Regions from separate parts of the Homo sapiens genome. Here region 2 is linked to region 1. The links come from fine-mapping of genetic effects on gene expression. A gene starts in region 1. The other region holds a variant in brackets. All regions are shown on one strand. Distances are between the middles of the regions. Region 1 holds the start of PLEKHG7 (pleckstrin homology and RhoGEF domain containing G7). Region 2 overlaps PLEKHG7 (pleckstrin homology and RhoGEF domain containing G7).

What was found.
Region 2: its variant is fine-mapped to the expression of PLEKHG7 in tibial nerve (GTEx, PIP 0.96).

Annotation. Positions count from the first base shown.
Region 1 is chr12:92,701,336-92,704,254 of GRCh38, reverse strand. PLEKHG7 (pleckstrin homology and RhoGEF domain containing G7) reads right to left here and starts at 1,266. Exons shown (of 17, transcript NM_001377329.1): 1 at 1,123-1,266. RefSeq lists an enhancer at 1,066-1,125.
Region 2 is chr12:92,740,948-92,743,866 of GRCh38, reverse strand. PLEKHG7 (pleckstrin homology and RhoGEF domain containing G7) reads right to left here. Exons shown (of 17, transcript NM_001377329.1): 8 at 2,919; 9 at 2,275-2,376. Among named protein-coding and RNA genes, the nearest start is that of PLEKHG7, 39 kb to the right of the region's middle. The variant T/C (reference allele first, on the strand shown) is at 1,386.

The sequences.
Region 1 (2,919 bases):
GAGTCTGGCTCTGTCGCCCAGGCTGAGTGCAGAGGTGTGATCATATCGCACTGTAACCTCAAACTCCTAGCCTCACAGAATCCTCATGCTGCAGTGCTCCTGAGTAGTTGGGGCTATGGATGCTTACCACCCCACCCAGCTAATTTTGAATCAATAGGTACTTTCACACATACATACAATCAGGGCCGTTCTATTATTTTTCTCCTTTAGAAGACTGTCCAAGTTCTAGGCAGCAACAATGTTAAAGGAATTCAGTATATTTGCATAGGCACTTGCATAATAGTTAGATCAGATTTCTTAGTCTTTGGGTTTCCCCTCTGTCCTTCTGGCCTTTTCCTCTCCTCTTTTGAGGGGTTAGGATACGGCTTTGGGTTTCCTTTGTAGTCGTTCAGACACAGGGGTGTAGCTGCTGGTAGGAAGTTATTTATGGCCAATAGGATTCACATCGGTAAGAATTATTTATTAGCCACTGTCTTAAATATTGGAACCAAGGCAATAGTAACTGCCGACATGATGCACTGCGGAAATGGAGAAACTTTAAAAACAGCAGGGCTTAGGGAGGTGGTTTGCAGAAAGGCAGGAAGAGCTCAAGCACCAGAAGAAATGGGTCTGGTTTCTCTTCCAGTATCACCGCCAATTGGCTGTGTGACCTAGGACAAGCCACTTCTCCTCTGCCAACTGCCATGCAGCATTTACCAAGAGGACATCAAAGAACCTCCCTCACAGGCCTGTTGCAGAAATTAAATGAGATAATGGCTAAGGCTCCTGGGAAGCTTTCCCTAAATGACTACACCCAGTGGATCTGGTAGAATCAAAAGTTAACAAGTCAATCCATTCATGCTAACTCTTCTTTATGTTTAAAAGAGGAAATTAATACATGGTCACCATAAAGAAAATTCACCAACCTTTGACCTTCCAAGCTTTGAGAATCCAGCAAACACCCACCCACACTGTTGGGGAAGCCATCTCACTGTACTAGAAATGAAACCATTGCAGGTTAATGATTCACTAATTCTAATGAGACCTGGAGAGATCAGCAAAACAAGCGAAACTGATAGCAATAGGACAAAAGGAAAGTGCAAGAGAGAAACCCAGAAAGCAGCTGAATGTTGCCTTTAATACCTGTAAGATGGTCTGTCCCTGAAGGCAACTGCACCCAGGTGGGTCCCGAGGCTCCTCAGAACCCGCAGATCCAGAGTGAGCTGCCAGGCGAGGGCTCGGAGCAACAAGTTCCACACCTGTAACAATGCGTCCTCCTGGCTGAGTGAAAGCAACCTTGCTACCAGCTGCAATGAGGAACTGGTCTCTCCCCTCCTTAGAGACATTTCCAGTTATTTGTTTATGAAAAAGCCTAAAGGGAAGCCAGCTCAGAATCTAAGGCAGCCTAAGAACAAGTCAGGTAAACAACGGCTGATCAAATACAGAAATGATGCAAATGTAACTTTTTACTTCCTCTTGAGGCATTCAACAAATCATCACTCATAGTTCAGTGAAGCAGTTCTAGGTTTCTATTTCATTTATTTTCTCTAAGGTTGTGAGATGCATTCTTTGGGACTCTACTTTCTTCACATCATAAAACATTTTGTGTTGATCTATTTTATTAATGACTTGCTTTGATAAGCATTGAATAGTAGAGGAAATGATTAGAGCACCAGGGAGTGAATTTGTGAACATTAGTTTTCAAATAATTAAAATGCAAATGGAAGAGCATTTATATCTACCAGTATTCTCATTAGATCAGTACCCCAAAGAATATTTATTTGATGCCTAGGTGGAGATAATGCATATGTATGCAGCATTAAACAAAAATGTCTATAGACTTTCCCAAAACAAAGTTGAAGTAATTCTAATGAAGTCTAATTCACTGAAGTTTTCATTGATTGGACTCATTACAGATACTTACTGTGAAGGTTCCCTGAGGTCGGTAGTTCTTAAAGTAGGGTCCCTGGACCAGCAGTATCACTATGACTTGAGAACTTGTTAGAAAGGAAAAATCTTCCCCCTCCATGCTCTCCAACCCCTGGAACTCTGGGATGGGGTCAGAAGTCCGTGGTTTTTTTTTGAGACAGGGTCTCACTCTGTCACTCAGGCTGGAGTGCAGTGGCACGATCTCAGCTCACTGCAACCTCCACCTCCTGGGTTCAAGCGATTCTCCTACCTCAGCTTCCTGTGTAGCTGAGATTACAGGTGCACACCACCAGGGCCCGGCTAACTTTTGTATTTTTAGTACAGACGGGGTTTCACCATATTGGCCAGGCTGTCCGAACTCCTGACCTCAGGTGGTCCACCCACTTCGGCCTCCCAAAGTGCTGGGATTACAGGTGTGAGCCACTGTGCCCAGCCAGAAGTCTGTGTTTAACAAGACTTCCAGGTGATTCTTACATGGGTTAAAATTTGAGAACCACTGCCCTTAGAGGAAAAGAAAAAAAGGTCTAACTTATAGATGTTGGCCTTGTGATAAACTTTATATTAGTCTTTAATTCTCTCATATTGATCTTACTAGAACATCATTTACTTAGAACTTTGAAAAATGACTTGATCTCCTGCCCTCACCACCATTGCCAACATTACCATGACTCAACCAAAAGCAGGATATCAAAAAATATTTTGCCTGCATGGAGCCTGCATAAACAGTTCTGAGCTCCTGCCAAGGATGTCTAGAAGTGAATTGCTTCAATTTGGGAAGGAAAAAAATGAATAAAGTCTTTTAGCTTTTAGTTTGTGGAAGGAAGGTCATACTCTTTTCTACCAATCCCCTCACGCACATGGGATTGTAAAGCTGTCTCTCCTAGGGGATAATGATAATGGAATACTTGATCCCAATGCAAAAACTTCCAACCTCTGGTTGTAACTTCAAGAAGGAAATTAAGAGTCTTATAGAAAGGTCACAAAAGATTATCACGGAAAAAAATGTGCCAC
Region 2 (2,919 bases), 40 kb before region 1:
TTAATGGGGCTGGGCACGGTGACTTGCGCCTGTAATCCCAGCACTTTGGGAGACCGAGGCAGGTGGATCACCTGAGGTCAGGAGTTCGAGAGCAGCCTGGCCAATATGATGAAACCCCGTTTCTACTAAGAATACAAAAATTAGTTGGGCATGGTGGCGCACACCTCTGGTCCCAGCTACTCGGGGGGCTGAGGCAGGAGAATTGCTTGAACCTGAGAGGCAGAAGTTGCCATGAGCTGAGATCGTGCCACCGCACTCCAGACTGGGTGACAGAGCAAGACTCTGATCACCCCCACCACCCCCTCCCCCACCAAAAATAGAGTCATTAATGGTCAGGCTTAGATATCCAGTTCTATCACCCATTGGCTATATGATCTTAGCTAAATTATGTAACCTCTCTAAGCCTCAGTTTCTATCTCATTGGATGGCTCACATGTGAATAACAAGACGTCCCTATCTTCCAGCTGGTGAGCTTCTTGTGAGGCACAGGTATACTGTTTCCTGTTTATCTCTTTGCTCTTCTTGGGGAGGATGATATGTAGCTGCTCCACTGAAGGTAAGCTTGGCCATGTACTGATGAAATGTGAGCAGACATGCCATGTGTTGTTTCGGGCAGAAACTCAAAGAGCCAGTGAGTGCTTTGCCATGGTCTCCAAATGGTAATGTTCCAGGTAGTGGCCATTTCATCAGCAGAGGTCCCAGGGTCAAGACAACTTGGAAGCAGAGCATAGTGAGACATGAACCAAGCCACTGAGATTTGGAGGTCATTTGCTACCGTGGCACAACTGACTCTCACCTGGCTGATTAGAACATTTTACATTTAGGAGAAGTTTTTATAGCCCATCATTGCACATCTGTAGCATAGCGTGGGGCATTCATATGTGGGTTTATTATAGACCCTTAGTAAAGAGCCTAATAATACCCCATTCTTTAGTGGCCTCTAAGTATACTTACATGTTTTGATGAGAAGCTGACATTTCTCCAGAATATTTACTAAAAACTAAATTTGGGCCAGGTATGGTGGCTCACTCCTCTAATCCCAGCACTTTGGGAGGGAATTCGAGACCAGCCTGACCAACATGGTGAAACCCCATCTCTACTAAAAATACAAAAATTAACTCGGCGTGGTGGTGCATGCTTTTAATCCCAGCTACTTGGGAGGCTGAGGCATGAGAATCTCTTGAACCTGGGAGGTGGAGGTTGCAGTGAGCTGAAGTCGCACTACTGCACTCCAACCTGGGCAACAGAGTGAGACTGTCTAAAAAAAAAAAAAAACTAAACAACAAACAAAAATATCCAAAGATTTTCTTACTTAAGCCCATTTTCAATGTTCACTAAAGGATCTTGCAGCTTATTTTTGCCTTGTTAAAACTCTTCCTTCTTCA[T/C]GTATCTTCTCAAGCATCATATCCCCAGGAAGCATTTCCTATCTGTGACTGCCCTACTATGCATCCCAACTTACAAGGTTTCCTTTGTTGGACACTCATTATATTTATGTTACTCCTTTTCCCCAGCATTTATCTTACTTTGATTATATAATCATTAGTGTCATTATTGGATTAATTTCTCCCCTACAAGACTTACAATTTCTTAAAAGCAAGGCGCTTGTTTAATTTTTCATATTATTGTGTACAGGGTATTGGCTCCATACATAGCACTTGGGAGGTTCTCAGTAAATCTCAATCTATCTTTTTCTCTTAAAAAGTGGAGTGTAAAAATTCAAATCTTGCTAAATGAAATTAGATTAAAATTAGATTAAAAACCTCAAAGTAAGAAAAGTAGGGGAGGATGTCCAAATGTCTACTCAAGAAATAAATAACATTGATCAAACCCGGGGTACAGGTTTTCCTCTTTTCTCATTTCACCCACAGAAATATGATCAAGGGTGTTGATGGATTTGAAGGTTTATTCTGTTTCTTTCTGAGAAATTGGTACTTTCGTTAAAACAACTGAATTACGTAATTAGCAAACACTAAACTATTGCCGTGAATGTTGCTTTAAATTGAAGCCACTTAAAAAACAGAATTGGAAATGGCTTTTCTATGCATGCAGATTTCTGTGTTAATAAAACCCACACAGGAGATGTGGCAATGGGAAAACAGAATCTGCAAGTTATTTTTGAAAATGTTGACTGGCAGAGAAAGGGACAGTTCCTTTGTAGGAGAGTGGAGGTAGAACTTTCCCAGGGAGAATTAAAATCAAGTAGGGTATAAACAACTGTCCTGGGAGGTGGGTGATTTTACTACATGAAGCTGAGGTCTCCCAGAAGGAGTTTACCTTTGTGAGCACGGAAATAAAATCCAGTGATGAGGAAATCTCAGAAGCGTCTACATAGTCCTTGATGATGCCAAAGAGACTGTTCACAAAACCAAGGCTTGTCTAGGGACAGAGAGAAAGAAAACAAAAATAGGCACACACCCAGGGTTAAGGAATAAACATTTGTTGAACTTCAAGTATCATTCTTACAGGTGTTTCCCATTTCAAATATATCTCCTAGAAAAATTCAAAGATTTATTTCCTCCACTCTCCAATATATATTTTCTTATAAGTATTTCTTATAAATAAATTCTTGTTATCTCTCTTCCTTTACTTTTAAGAGGAAAAATATTATTTATTTATAATGTATGCGAGAAGAGGATATTCATTTGAAAATAAACATTTATGAAGATGATGGAGATCTTAGGAATGTGTTTACTTTTTAAAATAGCCATGGAAAAATGACAAATAAAGGGTAACTAATATCTACAATTTATGGGAAAGGCATAATGGATATTTCAACTTCTTTCTTATTAACCTGAAGTCCTGACTGGGAATGGAATATGGAGATGTATTATGGCATACAAGCCATAAGAACAGACCAAGCATGAATTTTCATGGTCCTCTAGTGAATGTTAAAACATGAATCTTCCTACTTGGCTCACC